Linked DNA regions of Homo sapiens: region 2 is linked to region 1. Evidence: fine-mapped expression QTL. A gene starts in region 1. The other region holds a variant in brackets. All regions are shown on one strand. Distances are between the middles of the regions.

Region 1 (9,249 bases):
GACCTCATGATCCACCCGCCTCGGCCTCCCAAAGTGCTGGGATTACAGGCGTGAGCCACCGCGCCCGGCCCTACCACTAACTTTCAAGTCTTGTGTGCCCATCCCTCATTGAATGCTCCGCACCCCAAACCTTAACTTGTCAATAGTCCTCATACACTTCTTCACTGTTTTATCGTGTCACCCTAAAAAAGATGCTTAGCTTTGCCTGGTTTTCAACTTGATACAAATGGAAAAATACTTTAAGAATCCCTCTGCAACTTGTTTAAAAAAAAAATTTTTTTTTTTTGAGACAGGGTCACACTCTGTCACCCAGGCTGGAGTGCAATGGCACAATCTCAGCTCACTATAACCTCCACCTCCTGAGCTCAGATGATCCTCCTGCCTTAGCCTCCTGAGTAGCTGGGGTTACAGGCACACACCACCATGCATGGCTAATTATTAAACATTTTTTTTTTTTGAGATGGAGTCTTGCTCTGTCACCCAGACTGGAGTACAGTGGCATGATCTTGGCTCATTGCAACCTCTGCCTGCTGGGTTCAAGCAATTCTCCTTGCCCTCCTGCCTCAGCCTCCCAAGTAGCTGGGACTACAGGCGCATGCCACCATGCCCAGCTAATTTTTTGTATTTTTCGTAGAGATGGGGTCTCACCATGCTCGCCAGGCTGGTCTCAAACTCCTGACCTTGTGATCTTCTCATGTGGGCCTCCCAAAGTGCTGGGATTACAGGCGTGAACCACCGCGCCTGGCCCATTTTTAAACTTTTTATAGAGACAGGGTTTCCCCATATTGCCTACGCTGGTCTCGAACTCCTGAGCTGACGTGATCAGCCTGCCTCGGCCTCCCAAAGTGCTAGGATTACAGGTGTAAACCACCTCGCCTGGCCTTAAATTTTTTTTTTTTTTGATACAGAGACTCACTCTGTCACCCAGGCTGGAGTGCAATGGTGTGATCTCTGCTCACTGCAACCTCCGCCGGGGCTCAAGTGATTCTCCTGCCTCAGCCTCCTGAGTAGCTGGGATTACAGGCACACACCGCCACGCCCAGCTAATTTTTTTGCATTTTTAGTACAGTCGGGGTTTCACCGTGTTGGCCAGGCTGGTCTTGAACTCCTGACCTCAGGTGATCCACCTGCCTCAGCCTCCCAAAGTGCTGGGATTACAGGCGTTAGCCACCGCACCCAGCAAAATTTTTCAAATATACTTTATTGAGGTTGAATTTACATACAATAAATGCATTCATTTTATGTATATAAATTGATGAGTTTGACAAATGAACATACCCCCTTCACCACCACGTCAATCAAAGTAAAGAATATTTTCATCACCTGGAAATCTCCCCTCTCCCAGCCCAGGCAACATGATGTACTCTTTTACAGTTCTGCCTGTTCTAGAATTTCATATAAATGGGGTGGAAGCACATGGTACATATTCTCTTGTGAACGGCATTTTGGCTTTCTTCACTCAGCATGGTTTTTTTGTTTTTGGTGAGACAGAGTCTCGCTCTGTCACCCAGGCTGGAGTGCAGTGGTTTGATCTCAGCTTACTACAACCTCTGCCACCTGGGTTCAAGGGATTCTCCTACCTCAGCGTCCCGAGTAGTTAGGATTTTTTTCTTGTATTTTTAGTAGAGATTGGGTTTCACCATGTTGGCTGGTCTGGTCTCGAACTCCTGACCTCAAGTGTTATCTGCCCAACTCGGCCTCCCTAAGTGCTGGGATTACCGGCATGAGCTACCATGCCCGGCCCACTCAGCATGTTTTTGAGATTCATGTTTGCAATTTTTTTCATTCAGAAGTATTTTGAGGACTTGTCTTCATATATTTATCTTCAGTTTTTCATTTTTTACACTATTCCAGAATATGAATATACCACTACCTATTTTTTAGAAACAAGGTCTTGCTCTTGCCCATGCTGGAGTGCATCAGTGCAATCATAGCTCACTGCAGTCTGTAACTCCTGGGCTCACATGATCTTCTGGCCTCAGCCTCCCAAAGTGCTAGGACTACAGGTATGAGCCACTGCACTCAGCCTATATAATAATTGAAAAGTGGACATTTGAATTAAGTTTCTTCTTCAAATATTATGAACAATGCCCCTATAAATAATCTTGCACATGTTTCTTGGTACACATGAGCAAAACTTAATTTCTCTATGGTAGGAGAGAAACTGTTGGACCATGGATTAGGTACATGTGCAATCTTACCAGACAATGACCAGTTATTTTCCAAAGTGGTTTTACTAATTTATACTTTCACTAGCAATGGTTGAGAATTTAGAAAAAATTTTTAAGCAAAAGGAATATTGCTCTGAACTAGACCAAGGGACCCCTGAATAGCCAAAGTATTGATTGGTTCATGATGTGCTAGAAACTAACCCTATGTCTTTCTCATGAGGCAGGCAGGACTGTTAAGGTTTCAAGCCAGGACATCCTCCTAGAGCCTTTTCATGTACTATGTCAGCAAAGAACAAAGAGGGGAAGGTTAATAGCACTTGTTAATGAAAGTACAGTGCTCTAGGAGTTGAGGGAGTCATGAGCTCTAGCTCTACAACTAACCTGTTTTTCATTCAGCAACAAATTACAGAGTACCTGCTATGTGTAGGCCCTGGCACTAACCTGTTTTTCATTCAACAAGAAATTACTGAGTACCTACTATGTGTAGGTCCTGGCTTTATAGTCGTGAACAAAACTGGCATGGTGCCTGCATTCTTGAAGCTTACGGTCTAGCGGAAGAGAGAGGCATGTTTTAAACAAATGGACAAACATAAAAATTATGGTAAATGCTATGAAGGAAAAATCAGGGTACCATGTGAAAATAAAGAGAGGGGGAACCTACTTTAAAATAGGTAATAAGCATTCCTTTTTTGGAAGTAACATTTAAGCTAAGATCAAAAGAATGAATGAGCTAGCCAATTGAAGACCATTCCAGATCACAGGAGCAAAAAGGGTGGAAAATTCAGCCAGTGGAGCTGGGTCCCAGTGATCTGGGGAGAGCCACACAAAAGGGGGTTGGTAAGGGAAGCAGGTGTCTTTTACTTAGAAGCGAAAGACTAAAGAAGCAGAATGAGAGTGGCAGTGGGATAGCAATAATTCTGATTCACAAATGTTGGGTTTGAGATGTCTACTACAAATCTAAGTGGAAATGTCAGGTAATCAGTTGGCAATATATGTAAGGAACTCAGGAAAGAGTTCTAGGATAGAGATAAAATTTCATCTGTAGCTAAAGCCAAGGAAAGGAAGACAGTCACCTAAGGAGAAAGTACAGACAAAGATAAAAGACCACTGGGTTATTCACTTCCTATACGTCTTCTGGTAAACTGCCTCCTTTTCTTGGGCTTCTTGGTAACATGAATGGTGGAATTAGATGATTTATGGAGCTCCTCTTAAGTCTAAAATTATGTAAAGGTAACCCTTCTCATTGCTCTTGGGTTAACCTTAATGATCTCAACCCCATCCTAATCAAACAAAAAACACTGGGTAGTTTAAGATGAGCTGGGAAATATTTTACTACAAACAGTTGGGAACTTCGACCCAAGCCCTTCATTCTGCAGATACAAAAACAGAAGTTCCAGGATGAGCCACATGCTTGCCACAGCACTGAGCAGGTAAGCCAAGTTCCAAAGCGCACAGTGCCTGCTCAACTTAGTAAGTACAAGGACAAGTGCACGCAAAGAAACATGAGAATTAAAGTCATCACTAAAGGCAGAGGAAATCTCATTCTTGACCCTAAAAGATCTGGAGAAGTATGTTTAACTTGTGCCCTAAGGACCTACCTTGGGGGCATTGTGTCCCACAGGGACATGAGGTCCCCTTCGAGATTTCATTGCAAAGCGCATGATTTGCCTCTTCACAAAAATAAATAGCAGTACAAACACCTGTCCAAAAAGATGTAAAAATCCTTTAATAAAAAGTCAGTTTTGTTTTGTTTTTTTTTTAAAAAAGCATGCCTTCATTCCAAATCCCCAGATTCCGGCTCTCAGGAATGTTTCAGGGTAAAACTTGGGGCAAAGCAAGGCCGTTATGATGGGGGTGGATCTAAGAAGCCAGCAGCAGGGAGGCGTGGGGTCTGTGCTCTAGCGTTAAAGGGAGGGTTCTAGACTAACGAGGGCGGGTCGGCCCGACTAAGTGACTTAAACTCCCACCTACTCCTGGAATAAGGAGTCAAAGCCCGGATAGGCGCAGGTGAGTGGGTGGAGAATGCAGACGGGGTACAGCTCAAAAGGAGGGTCTCTACTGGGTAAGATGCGACAGCAGGAATGGGGTGGGGTAATCTCCTCACCAGGCTCCCGTAGGCCATCACCAGCACGACATTCACCCCGGAGAGCCAGTTACTGCCGGACGCCATGGCCTCCCTACCTCGCGCAGAATTGTTCGGGTTTACCCCGCTGTCCTGGCTGGTCAGCCCAGGCTCCGCCGAAGCGACGGCGCCTGGGTCCCCTGGAGCTCCCCGGCCATTTCCTTACGGGGGAAGACCAAGCCAGACCCGGCCTGAAAACATGGCGGACAGGCAGGAGAGCTGGGAAAGGAGAACGACGCCTTCCAGCTTCCCCCTGACACGTGACTCAGGCAGGCAATGGCACCCAGGAGCGTCGAGCGCTCAGACGCGGAACTACGACAGTAAGAGGAAGCGGCGGCCATCCGTGCGTCACGTGGTGGAGGCAGGGCCGCCGTGAAGGAGGCGGGGTGGACTCGCGGAGCCGGAAAGAGGTGTCTCGTGGCGAGGCGGCACGCGCACGCTTGCGTGCGCGCCCCTTTTAGCGTCACGCGCTGAGGGACGCAGGAAGGCAAGTGGGCGGGGGAAGGCGCGAGAGCGAGCGCGAGAGGGAAAAGGAGGGAGGGGGTGGGGAAGAGGGAATCTTATATCACGTGACAGGGGCGGCGCGGCCCGGGGTGTCAGTGTGGAGGAGACTGAGGTAAAGTTGGGAGCGCAGCGGCGTTGGCGGCGGCGGCGGCGGCAGCGGCAGCGCGGCGGGGCCGGGTATTGTCCGCGGCCCCTTTAAATCCGCGATCCCCCTTTTACCCTCCCTCTTTTCTCCCCTGCCCCCGCCGTATCCCCTCCCTCGGTAGGCCCCCCCACACCGTGTGTTCCCCCACTGTACACCCCCCCCCGAGTCATGCGAGCCCTGGCGCCCCCCACCTCGAGTCGGCCCCCGGAGGTTTTGTTTATGGTTGGGTTCGCGGCCTAGTGGGCCGCGCCAGAGCCGGGGCCTCGATTTGGGAGCGTGGCCGGGGCGGGGCTTGGAGCAGCCGTAGGAAGGGGGGGCCATGCGGCTAGAGCCTGAGAGGGGAGAGCGAGAAAGAGCGCGAGCGAGCGAGGCCTGGGCCTTGCCTGAGGTAGGGCTCTCTCTTCACCCCGGCCGGTGCCTGCGGAGGAGAGGGCCTCCTCCCTTTCCACCCACTGCGGGCCTCCTCTGATCCGGATCCGGCCTGGTTTGGGGGTGGCGTGGGGGAGGGAGGGCGATGGGGTGGAGCTCCCCCAAACTCCCCCATGTGGCCCTCAGTTTGGTGTGCGAAGGATTAATTTGTTCCGGCTGGGAGGTAGGGAGGAGATTGGCCCCGTGGGCTCTCGATGTGGCGCTGAGGGGGGTGAGCCTCCCATCCTCCACCCGTGGGCTTGCGTCCCCTCTCCGTTTCCAGGCTCTTTGTCAGCTCCTCTTATTACCCTCCCTTCTTTCTCACCAACCCAGTTCTTGGAATATGTTTTTGCTGCTGTCTTTAGCTTCCTGTTTATACTGTAGTTTGGGTACCCCAAACAATTGTGTTATTTGGGAAGCTGGACATGGAGGCCCCCATAGGGTGTATTTACGCTTAAGGGACGTCACTAGAGCACTGGGGTATTTGTTCACTCTTCTCATAATGGTACAGGAATGCCCAGTTTCTTCAAACCCTTAACCTTGTGGACAGCCCTTAAATTGCTTTGCAAACTGATGTCACAAACTGGAGACTGCTCCTTTTCCACCATTCTTGAAATGTAGCCACCTCTGGTGTAGGATGTTGTGGAAAGAAAAACACCACAGTAACAGGCGTTTTTGTTATTATTGTTAACGTTTTTGCCTTTGACTCTCCCTGATTATTAAATGGAGAAATCCTTTTTTTTTGTCTTCTCTCCCATCCTACCTTCCTCCGCCGCATATCCTGTTTTGGGGATACCTGATGTGACTTGCTGGGAGGTGATGGACATTACTAGTAACCAGCGTTTCTAGAGAATTAAAACATTTTGGCTGTGTATCAGTTGATAAAACTGCTTTGAGATCTGTCTCCATTGTACTTAAAGATTAGACTATCCCAATGATTACAGAGAATTAAAACATTTTGGCTGTGTATCAGTTGATAAAACTGCTTTGAGATCTGACACCATTGTCCTTAAAGATTAGACTATCTCAATGATTGTTTCCTTTGTGAATGGGAAATATTGCTGGCACATAAACTAGTGATGAAAGGCCTAAAAATGTCCTGTTTTGTTTTTCATCTTTAAAGCTCCTCCTTGCTATGTCCTAACTGGGAAGTACTCTTACTAACTAGATATCAAGGTGGTGGGGAAGGGGATGCAGGGGCCATTTCAACAAAGCATCTACAGAAATTAGTTGTTCTGTTAGAGGTAGCAAATTTTACCCAACTCAGTCTAGCTTCAGTTTCTGAATTGTTTCTTAAATTAGATTGTAAGCTCCCTGAGGGCAGCTACTAAGTCATACTGCTTTTGTATTTTCCTGAAGTATTGGACACATAGTAGATTCTCAATAAATATTTGTTATTTAGTTTTTTCAGTGAAATTTCTCTGGCTATTTTTTTAAGTAGCTAGTTTTCAAAAAAGAGTCAAGGGCACTCCTGTGTTGAAACCTCTGTTTACTCTCGCACGATTTCCTTGGTCTCCAATACTTCTCACCCTACTTCCTTTAAATCTTTTTATTTTCTAAGAAAGAGCAAGTAAGTAACAAGATTCTTCATCTCCAGTGTGATAGCTGGGAATGGGTCTGCTTGCTACTAATTCTGTGCCCTCAAGTGATCCATTCCAGATCACTTACTTTTGACCTGTTGCTCAGTGTTGTCACTACTAGGTGGTAAAAATTTTCTTAGTCACATTTCGAAGCACTTGTAAGAGGGAAATGTTACTAGCAAGAGTGATTAGGAGAATTTTTTTCTTTCTTGGTTAATTATATCTTTCAAGATGACTTTTTAATATGTTTACATCTGACTGGTACAGTATATGCAATAGTGTATAGCTAGTCATGCAGTTTATACCTGCAATATAACTTATCCTCACAAATAGATATCACATGTGGAGTAGAAAACAGTCAATATTTGTAAGTTACAGTAGTGGGTTGGAAATGACTATGCCATATTAGAAACTTCATCTTAGAGCCAATTTTAAAACAAAATAGTTTTCCTCTCGTCTTTATATATATACGTATATATGTGTATATGTAGTCTTGTTGATTTGGATTCGGGGTACTTGGTTAAACATTTTTTTTTTTTGTAAAGTTGAAACGACTATAATGCTAACCTGGGAAAATGGGCTACTGTGTAGCAAATAATCCTTTCTAGCTTGAAATACTTATGGGCTTTTGTGTGCCAATATGTGTAGGGGGAAGAGGTAATGGGTTAAAAATTACCTGAGAAGCTACCTTAAAAAAATCTTTCTTGATACAAAGACCTATGCAACCTATTGACGCAACTTGGTGAAGAATTTATGCACAGAAAAAGTCAGCTTTCTCTGTGACATCCAAGAAAGTCAGATGAAATTCACTTCCCTAATAGTTAATCCTTGCATATTTCTTTAGAAGTCCTTCCTCCCACTCAAATCCAGTAATATCTCTGGGCAGTCTAGAATTACGTTGTATAAGGTTTCATTAACAAGAAAAATTAAATATAGAGCAGAAAAGTATAAACTTACCCTCTTTGGAAGGGAATAAATGCAGAGTAACCTATTATTTTGAACACTCTATCATATGATTAATGTTTTCTTTTTTACTAAATGCAGCAGCTGAGATTGTATTATAAAACAAAGTATGAACTAAAGGAACTTGAATTCAGTAGAATCCTTCCTTGTTAGAAGTCTTGTAACAAAAACTATATTCTGGTTTGGGGAAGGCCCTGTGTGTTCTGTGTCTCTTTAAAGACTCAACTAAGTCATCTTGCCAGCATTAAGGTCTCAAGTTTAAAATGATTTCTTAGAAGCACTTTCTTCCAAATAAAACTTTGTGCTAGATGCTTTTGGTTTGAGACAAATTTGAGATTCCCTGTATATTAAGGTGAGTGGTGGAGGGTAATTGCCATTTTGGTTTCTTGAAAATGTGGACTAGGAGACCAAGAGAAGCACCTGTAAAAGCAGTGTGTTGGAATTATTTTCCAGAGAACAGAGATTCTGGACAAAGTCATTGGGGCTAATACGTACCCTGTTGAAGGCTGTGGTTTAAAAAAACAAAAAACCCCCACAAACACAAAACAAACCCATAGCATACTGAGAGAGATGAAACTTGAGGGACAAAGAAGAGTCTAGACTTGAACTTGTCCTTTCCCAAGCAATGGAGGTCACATGCAGCTTACATAAAAAAGGTTGTAAGGCAGGTAAGGCTGTTTTCTTAGGTGATTGAATACAGTATTTAAAATTATTTCTCTGGAGTGTAGACTAATCTCCTTCCTGGAAGGTTTTTGTTTCCAGACTTTACTGATTATCTTTCCTTCTGTCAAAGGTACTTCAGATACTTGCATCTATGTAAAAGGCTTTTGATTATTAGTTAAATGTAAAGTCTGCTTATGGGGGACTAGTAACCAAACTGCTGTAACTTCTTAAAAAAATCCATCACTTACACATGCTTTATACATTTCTTGTTACATAAAAATGGATTAACAGCCATAGCTCCTTAAGGAATTTATCAAGCTAATTATGTTGTAAGAATAAATGAATCTTATTGATTTGTTCCTTTGAAGAAGTGAAAGTGTTTGGTGGTGAAGGTGCTGATGAGAGAGTTAAAAACATATTTTGCCCACATTTAATACCTAATTTTCTTTTAAATCTTTCAGTATTCTACCTTGTAAATACTGTTATTTGTATATACTGTAAATGATGACATCGGTGGGCACTAACCGAGCCCGGGGAAACTGGGAACAACCTCAAAACCAAAACCAGACACAGCACAAGCAGCGGCCACAGGTAAATAATCCAAGGCATACGGATTCATGGATAGCGTTGCCTGCTGATACTGGTTTCCATGCAGTACAGCATCATTCTGTGCTTTGAACTGTTGGTTTAGGT
Region 2 (9,249 bases), 42 kb after region 1:
CTGAGCCACTACTCCTGGCCCCAAGAATTATTTTCTCTGATTTGATTAAATCCCTAACTCTGAGTGTGTTTGCTGGTCTGGCCTGGTTAGAGGAAAGTTTCCTGACTCAATCTGGGACTTTGAGAATAAGTGGCTGACATTAGTAGCTTTTTGCCCTAGTGTATCTTCTGTGACCTTCAAGTATTTGGTACCTATTAAGATGAAGGATATATGGAAACGTTTTAGAAGATACCTGTTCCTGCCCTCATAGACAAAGTCTAGATAAATTTCATACCGATGACACATCCAAATAACACAGTTACACATTTTTAATTTGTGGTCACTACCTTAAAACCCTGACATTGGAGAAAAGTGAAGTATTCTTTCCAGAGGAGATTATTTTTAAGCCAGATTTTGAAGAGTATAAGAGACAGAGACTTGTAGAATAGAGAGTAAAACTGGTTGTTCGTGTATGTTTTGTGTCTACTCTATTGGTATCAAGAAGCCAGCCTACTAGAATCAGTAGTATTTAGCTCAAGGAAAGCTTCAAGACCTTTCATGAATCATTTAATCTCTGTGTACTTTACTGCTTTTTCCTTAAATAAAATTGAAGGAAATAATCCGTGTCCTGTTCTAACCCAGAATGAGGATGAATGTTCTGTTGAATTAGCTTGTCTCTTGGCTCCTTGTTTTGCTAACATCATGACCAGTTCCTGTTATTGCTATATGTCTGTATCTTTCAGCCACAAGTATATGGTTATGATGACTTGCAGATGCTTCAGACAAGATTTCCATTGGTGAGTATGTGGGATAGAGCTTTGGAAAAGAAAGTAGTCTTAAAATTAGTGTTGGGAGAATTATCTCCGTCACAGACATAGCTCTTTCCCATCCCAGCCCTCCATACACTCTGATTTAAGGCATATTAGAATATAGGGATTTGGGGGAGGGTTTCCAACAGAAGATAACTTTTTTTTTTGAGACAGAGTCTTTCTCTGTCGCTCAAGCTGGAGTGCAGTGGTGTGATCTTGGCTCATTGCAACCTCCGCCGCCTGGGTTAAAGCAATTGTCTGCCTCAGCCTTCCGAGTAGCTGGGATTAAAGGTGCCCACCACCACCCCCAGCTAATTTTTTTTGTATTTTTAGTAGAGGCGGGGTTTCACCATCTTGGCCAAGCTGGTCTTGAACTCCTGACCTTATGATCCACCCGCCTCTGCCTCCCTAAGTGCTGAGCTTATAGGCATGAGCCGCCGCACCCAGCCTTTTTTTTTTCTTTTTTTAAATCAGAGTTGTGGCATCTTAGTAAATACATTTTAACCTATTCTATAGCCCAGTAAAGTACTCTGGAGCACTCAGGGTGCTTTCTGTTTGTCCCAGACACTTTAAATTATCGAATGATCTGTTTTCTCAGTAGAATAAGCTTGGTATAAACTGATAGGGATGACACCTAGAGGGTTGAAAATATTGGTCCTCGTGGACTTTGATGTATTCTCAAGTGGGCATACCCGTAGACCTTGTCTGACTGTGCTCATGGCCAGGCAGGGGGGACAGTGTATGCAAGAGTAATGTGGAGTTTGTGCTAACTCTAGCCAGCTTAATTAGTGACTGGATAAATTGCACAACTCTCACATTCTTCTGTTTTTTCCTCCGTGGAAATAGTACTCATGCTGGGGAATGAGTGACATTGAATCTCTGCTCTTTTTTCCCCTCTTTTCTAGGATTACTACAGCATCCCATTTCCCACACCCACTACTCCGCTGACTGGGAGGGATGGTAGCCTGGCCAGCAACCCTTATTCTGGTAGGATTGGGATGGGACTAAATAAATAAAAAGGGAGATAGTGTTGGGATTGATGGCAGACACCTGATTGGTAGCAAGAAGGGATGTGATAAATCAGGATTGGTAGATTCAAAATCCTGCTAAAGTTGGGCATGTCATGGCTTTTCCTATTCATCCCACTTTGTGTTGTCTCCCTGTGATTTCTAGATGATATCTTAGCCAGGCATGGTAGCACACACTTGTAGTCTCAGCTACTTGGGAGGCCAAGGTGGGAGAATTGCTTGAGCCCAGGAGTTCAAGACCAGCCTGGGCAACATAGCAAGACCCCATCTCCAAAAAAAGTGATATCTTGACTTAGTTTCAAGCCATTTGCTAGCTTTTTCCAGGAAATACAGTGGTTGAGGTGGTCTTCTCTGCTCATCTCTGCCCCTTTATGCTACTACTCACAGTGGCAATCTCACTGCCTTGCCACTCCTTCTTTTACCTGACCTATCATTGTCCTCATTGACTTACCGTTTTCCCTGATCCATCGTTGTCCTTCAAGTCCAGCATGGGGTATTCCCCATGGAGGAGAAGAGGGGAGGGAAGAAGAGGGAAGATGAAAGAGAACACAAGTGGGCAGAGAAATTGTGCAGGTGCCTTATTCCAAGAGCCTCCTGCCATAGCATTGCACAGTTATTCAACATTAGTCCTTGACTTGCAGCAACTGTGCTAAGTGTATGCTGAGCAACAATAATTGGAGCCACTAAGAAATGTAATTCAAGGAATTGAACTTTAATAGTCTTTGAACAGGATCTCCTGGAATCATGTGAAATCAGAAGAGGTAATTCTGTATTGGTATTGGGGTGAAAGAGGCAGGTACATTTAGCTTCTCCTGTCACAGGTGACCTCACAAAGTTCGGCCGTGGGGATGCCTCCTCCCCAGCCCCGGCCACAACCTTGGCCCAACCCCAACAGAACCAGACGCAGACTCACCATACCACGCAGCAGACATTCCTGAACCCGGCGCTGCCTCCTGGCTACAGTTACACCAGCCTGCCATACTATACAGGGGTCCCGGGCCTCCCCAGCACCTTCCAGTATGGGCCTGCTGTGTTCCCTGTGAGTACCTGGCTTTGGTCACTCCTTGTGGTGAAGGATCCTAGCCCTGGACACTATCCTAGCTGCTTTTAAGGGTCAATGACTTTAATAATGGATGAGGAGGAACAGTTTCCACCTCTGGCCTGTTTTTGGCCTGATGCAGGGTGGTGGGGGAATGGGGCTGGAATTGGTGGAATTAGGATAGGGATTGCCTAGTCTTAGAATTTGCCAAAGGGAGAATATGATACCATACAGCTTTGCTTCACTCAGATTCATTCATTCCCTGCTGCCATTGTCCCTTTTTCTTCCTCCAAACTACCATTTCTTGACTTCATTAGTAGATTCTAGAACAGTTAGTAAGGAGCTAATTTCACTAAGCAAACTGTAGTCAACTTGCATCAGGATAGGTAGCCATCTGAATGGCCAGTACCTGGAGCAGGACAAGTGGGACAGATGGTATTCTGCTGCCAAGTCACTGCAAATCTGGCCTTTTTGCTCTTTAGGTGGCTCCTACCTCTTCCAAGCAGCATGGTGTGAATGTCAGTGTGAATGCATCGGCCACCCCTTTCCAACAGCCGAGTGGATATGGGTCTCATGGATACAACACTGGTAAGCTGACCTTGTCTCTGGCTCGGTGTTATCTGTGGGGTGTTATTGGATAAATTTCAGGGAGGAAGACTTGGTGCTTGAGAAAATGGGATTGGTGAGGGTGTGCCGCTGCCCCAGGTATGATTGTTAATGCTTGGCTGACTTGGGTATCTGTGGGAGCAGCACCAACAGAGGAGCTTGATACTAGGACATGTGTCCACTATTTGTGACGGGAATGCCCAAGAGTATGTGTTGGTTTTTAGAATATGTTGGTTGGCCAAAAGTGTGGGTGGAAGTAGGGCAAGGAGCCCCAAGATTTTGCTGAAATGTCAGTGGAGGCAAGTGTTAATAGTATGTATGGCACTGATAGTACAAAAGGGGGGTGTATTCACTGAGTAGAAGGATTAAATGGGTTCATAGCTAGCAGCCTACGATAGGTTTGGCTTAAATCACTTTGTAGCACTACTTTTCTTATGTGTCCTTTTTTATTCCCTAGCTAGAAGACCTAAACTGTGGAGAAAAAGGAGTAGGCGTGACCATACTTAATAGAGTGGGAATTGGACTGGGAGAGTTGGGCCTTTAGGTTCCTTCATTTGTATGGCTGGTCTCTTTGCAAGTCTTTTTGCATATGTGATGGCAGGGAGGGAATTGTAGGAATCCTCTGGATGGGTACTTACCTAAAAGATACTCAGCCTCTCCCTTGCTTCCATACCTGACATCTGTGCTCTACTTTTGGAGGACAGGGAGTGAGAAGGAATCTTTGAATAATATAATTGTACCTTTTCAGCGACTTGTAGATGAATAGGGGAGGAGTAGGTTTCTCTGATTGCTTAGGGTTGGGGATGGGGGTTGTCCTTCAAAGCTGTCAGCTCAGTTACAGTTTCATGGTGATTTGGATAGAGCAGCATGTGTTTTTCACCCTTATGTGGGCTCTGGGTGGGTCAGTTGCCCACAGTTTTCAATAATTGGGAAGAGCACAGAAGGCAGTAAGGGCTAGGAACTGATAGCCAAGTGGAGCTTTGAACTGTGCTGCATGAGTTAGAGTGGGTCATGAGTTAAATTAAACAAATCCTGAGAAGCCCCATTGAGATTTAATACATAGACTCCTTGTGGCCACCCCTGTCATTGAGCAAGGTTCACCCTAAATCTTGGTGGGGAGGATTATAAGCCTTTTGACTTGGAGTGGTGGCCCCTTTCTGAGGACATTAGGTTGAAGTCTTAGTTGGACCAGGTTCACGAATTTTAAGAGGTAGGTGATGGATAATATAAGAGAATTGGCATACCTGATTCTAGAAATCCCACCTTCTTGCCTCCCTTCAGAATTCAGAAACGTATTATATCAGCCCTTGAGAACCCCCAGTTCCCAACCCCACAAAGGGCTTTTGTCATTCCATTCATTTATTTTTATGTATTTGATTCCTTTTAGGAAGAAAATATCCACCCCCTTACAAGCATTTCTGGACGGCTGAGAGCTAATTTGGCCCAAGGCTGGGGGCTGTGTTTT[G/A]TGTGTGTGTATAAATTTGCACTGAAGTCTTGTTTCAGAAACCAGACCACTGAGGAGAGCCTGCTGAGCTGAGGCCATGGCCTGCGTGGCTTGGGGAAATGAGTTGGTGGATACCTTCTGGGCTTTTGAACTTGCCCCTCCCCCATTTCCCTCTCCCCCATGTGTCTGACCCTGTCTTACCCATTTCAAGTTCAAGCGGTGCAGCACCTTCGAAGCATCAATGCACACACCTGCTGTTGCTTTTGATTTCTGGAAGGCATGTAGTTTCAACTTGTAACAAAAATATTTGTAGTCTTCAATAAACTGTGGTATTTCTTTAGCTAACTCTGGCGTTCTTTCCGTGCATGTCTTTGTGGACACTAGGAACCAATGCTGTGCTGTGGATGAAGGGTGGAGGGTGGCCTTTTTAATCAAACCCCAGCATAGCCAAAGAACTATTAATTTTTCAGTATGGTGGTTTTATGAAGGTGGGGGGAGGGGAAACAGCCTCAGTTTCCCACCTGTTGATTAGTTGGTAAAGGAAACTATTTGTAGAAATACCTGATTCTCCATGCTTATGTTGCTTCATTTTTCCATTTAGATCTTTCCTTTGCCTCTTACATAAGCAGTGGGGGAAAGGACAAAAAAGTTTGGAGTGTCATGTCATGGTGAAAGGCAAAAGAGAGAGTTTTCAGAGCTGTTAGAGAAGTATCTTTCAAGGCTTAATTCCCACATCTATCTGGTTCCTAAAGGCCAAGTGGCTAAGATCTGATAAAGTCATTAGTGATAAGCTAGTTGATGACTCAGGCTCTGTGGCGACTGTGCTATCCTGGAACATTGTTCTTAGTCCCTTGATGGCTTTTCAGAGATCGTGGATTACCAGTTTTGCATTTGTGGGTATAAGCTAAGGATGTGCAGGAGCGGTTTGGTCAGATATCTCCTTGACTATGGAAATTCTAATTCCCTCCCAGTCCAGCTAGCATACAACATTAGCCCTTTGTTTATAAAGTTAACGTGGACAGTGAGATCACCACCCTGGGTGAATTAGAAACCAAAGTATTCAGCTTTCCTTGTATTTGTTCCCAGCCCTTTGGAGTAATTTTGCTCTGTGGAGTGTGACCACCTTTCCCAGGGGCTGCCATGGTGGGAGAGATAGATTCATGTGTCTCTGCCCTGCTGCCCACGTGATTCTGGTATTGTCACTGTTTGGGGATAAGTAGGGGGTGTTGATGTTGGAAGGAAAGCAAGAGAACTCTGTAGTCTGAAGATCTTCCTAATAACTGGTGAGGGGTAGTGAAATCAGTACCCATTATTTTCTAGGTCTCTAATACTGTAATTGAGATTATTATGGCTACTACAGAGTATTATGGTTCCTGCATTCTCAGTCCCTTCAACCTCATATCAAAGATAAGGCCTCTGGACTAGAAGCTGTTTTTAGCCTAAACTCTGGAAAGAATGAGATCAGGTAGGGGCACACTGGAGCTGAATTCCTCCCTACCACTCGGCTTGAGAATCCAGTTAGTCATTTCTTCCATCCAATATAGGCAGCCTAGCCTCACTGCAGAAGGTGACCAACTATGCTATTTTTTATTTTTTTATTTTTTTTTTGCCTTTGCAGTAAAGATAAATTCTCTCTTTTGGTTTGACTTAAAAATGTTCTACTTATATCCTGTTTATTCCACCTTTACTCTCCACCCTTCCACATGAACTTACTAGCTTAAGCCTTTTCCATAACTGAACTTCCTATTCTTAAAAGTTATGCCTGTTACTCAGTGATTTGCCAGATGGGCACCTCGGGTTTGAAAAGGGAATGGAAAAAATACCCCATTAGCCCTTTAAGATACTCCTGTATCGTTCCCTTCTTTTACTTCAGTGTCTTTAGACAGTTGATGCTTCGGAGATGAGGAAGTATTTTCTCTTGCTTGGTTTTCTGTAGTTCCGTTATTTTTCCTAGTTAGTGTTTGCCCCTCCCAGGAACTATCTGGACTTAGGATGTTGGGAAGGTTTTCCAGATTAAGATACCACTTCAAAAGTGACTGTTCAAGGTGGGCTTAACTTTGGAAGGCTGCCTTTGTCTGAGGCATTGGGAGGATTTAGGTTCTAGAGTTTGAATTGTGGGTGAATGGAGGATTCCTTATTTGTGATTTGGCCACTCTAGTACACTGCTTCTAAAACTCTTTTCCATCAGTGTTCCTGATAGCAGAGGAGAAGGAAATGTGTACCTCTGATGGGAAGGATCCAAGGGCATAGACAGGCAAAGTTTTTCTGAAGCTTTGTTTTATTTTTATAAAAACTAATATATCTTTTTAAAATCATGCTTTATATTCCTAGTTAAATTACTTACTTTTCTTCACATCTTTGTTTCAAAATGGAAAGTATAAAAGATGTTAGGTTATTTATTTCATGGCTTTTCCTATCTTCTTGACCCGATGCCTTATACCCCAGGTGATGGAATATAGTATGAGTATTTATTTGTTTGAGGAGTACAAATTAGAATGACATGTTGTACTACTCTGGTTTCTTTAAAGTTGTAGTGGTTAGTAGGGAGTTTTTTTCAACAGGAAATATGAGAGTTGGGGTATGAGAGCTTTTATCTTACGGAGAAGCTGAAGTTGTATACTGAAAATGACGTGGTTTTTGTGTTCCACCTAGGCTATAGGAGATGGCCTACTCCTGTCTACCTATCCCTCCCCACCCCGCTACACTTAGGCTTAAATTGTGTACATGGAAATTGATCTTGATACTAGACCTTTACATCTTAAGTTTGAAGATTTAGCCTAGATGCTCCAAGACTAAAGAAGCTGGACTAATTGAGCTGAGGCTCTGAGAATGAGAGTGCCCTTGGGGATTAAAGTGGACTGCTCCTCTAGTACTTATGCAGTGGAGGCATGGATTTTGAGCCCAGAAATGTCACTTCAGGAAGAGAGAGGGCCAGACTGCCCCAGTCTCCAGGAATAAAACTGAGTGGCATTTGGGTGGATTGATTTGAAATGGACATTAAAATTAAAAGTTTATTATATTCCTGCTAGACTTTGGCACAGAAGTGTTTTGAAAACAGTGTATGCTAGTGAGGTTTGGTCATATCCCCTTGCCCACCAAAAAACAACTTACCTCACTCTCTCTCACGTATACTCAACACGTACCTGGGAAGGGCCAAAGAACCCTTAGGGAGCTTTTGTTTCATGAACTCTTACCTCTCAGGACTAACTTGAAGCTGGAAAACCGACCAAAATTCCCTTGCATTGGTATAGCTAGAAAGGCTACAGATATCACCTCATCTCAGGAATAAGGGCCAGGTAGCTAGCTGAGCTAATCCTCCTGTCTGTTTCCTCCTCCCCCAGGTGTTTCAGTCACCTCCAGTAACACGGGCGTGCCAGATATCTCGGGTTCTGTGTACTCCAAAACCCAGGTAGGTGCCTGGCTCTGGATAAAAGTGGAAAAGAGATAGACATAGAGGAGGTGGAGTTGCAATGGTAGAAATAACAGTGGACAAGAAGAACCCTAGGAGAGGTGGCAGGAAACCCATCCTACTTTTTCTAAATGAAAGGTCTTCTCTAGACTTCACTTCCTCTAAGAAGTTAAAATTTAGCCCTCTGAGAAAAAAAACGAGAAACGTAATAGGAAGGTAAAGCGTGGCAAATTGTTTATCGTGTCATGTAATTTACTGTGCAACTCTCCTGGCCCCTTTTCCTACCTACTCCCAACCTTTTTCATAACTTTTCAAGAGAATAAGTATGAGAGTGACAGGAAACTAGTTCATTCCATTCTTTGAGTAAATCTATAACAGTGGGAGTGGGAAAGGAGACGACCTAGTAACTAATGAAGCATTTGAGTGATCCACAGGTTTGTTATGTTGCTTTTATCCCCCATCACCATAAATACTTAAAGTTTGCTATAAAGCACTGGGGGTCTGGGGGGGCACTTCATGCACAAGACCTTCAGCACTTCAAATATCTCAGTATGTGTTTATTTCTTTTGAAATATCCAACGAGTTTTTTTTTTTTTTTTTTTTTTGAGATGGAGTCTTGCCTTGTCACCCAGGCTAGAGTGCAGTGGTGTGATCTCGGCTCACTGCAAACTCTGCCTCCTGGGTTTAAGCGGTTCTCCTGCCTCAGCCTCCTGAGTAGCTGGGATTACAGGTGCCCACCACCGCGCCTGCTAATTTTTGTATTTTTTAGTAGAGACGGGGTTTCACCATCTTGGCTAGGCTGGTCTCGAACTCCTGACATCATGATCTGCCCACCTTGGCCTCCCAAAGTGCTAGATTACAGGCGTGAGCCACTGCACCCAGCGGAGTTACTATTTTTGTAAGGAATATTGGAAGGGGTAGGGACACTATTGGTT

What was found.
Region 2: its variant is fine-mapped to the expression of LTAP1 in whole blood (TOPMed, PIP above 0.99).

The regions. Positions count from the first base shown.
Region 1 is chr1:154,216,067-154,225,315 of GRCh38, forward strand. It overlaps LTAP1 (lipid transport auxiliary protein 1), which reads right to left and starts at 4,524. Exons shown (of 7, transcript NM_001098616.3): 1 at 4,276-4,524; 2 at 3,770-3,871. The coding sequence starts at 4,341. It overlaps UBAP2L (ubiquitin associated protein 2 like), which reads left to right and starts at 4,889. Exons shown (of 27, transcript NM_014847.4): 1 at 4,889-4,909; 2 at 9,018-9,147. The coding sequence starts at 9,058. RefSeq lists enhancers at 3,897-4,644, 4,223-4,662, 4,645-5,392 and silencers at 3,983-4,052, 4,913-5,062.
Region 2 is chr1:154,258,255-154,267,503 of GRCh38, forward strand. It overlaps UBAP2L (ubiquitin associated protein 2 like), which reads left to right. Exons shown (of 27, transcript NM_014847.4): 21 at 723-776; 22 at 1,694-1,775; 23 at 2,638-2,855; 24 at 3,338-3,443; 25 at 8,247-8,314. It overlaps SNORA58B (small nucleolar RNA, H/ACA box 58B), which reads left to right and starts at 1,473; the gene lies at 1,473-1,608. The variant G/A (reference allele first, on the strand shown) is at 4,927.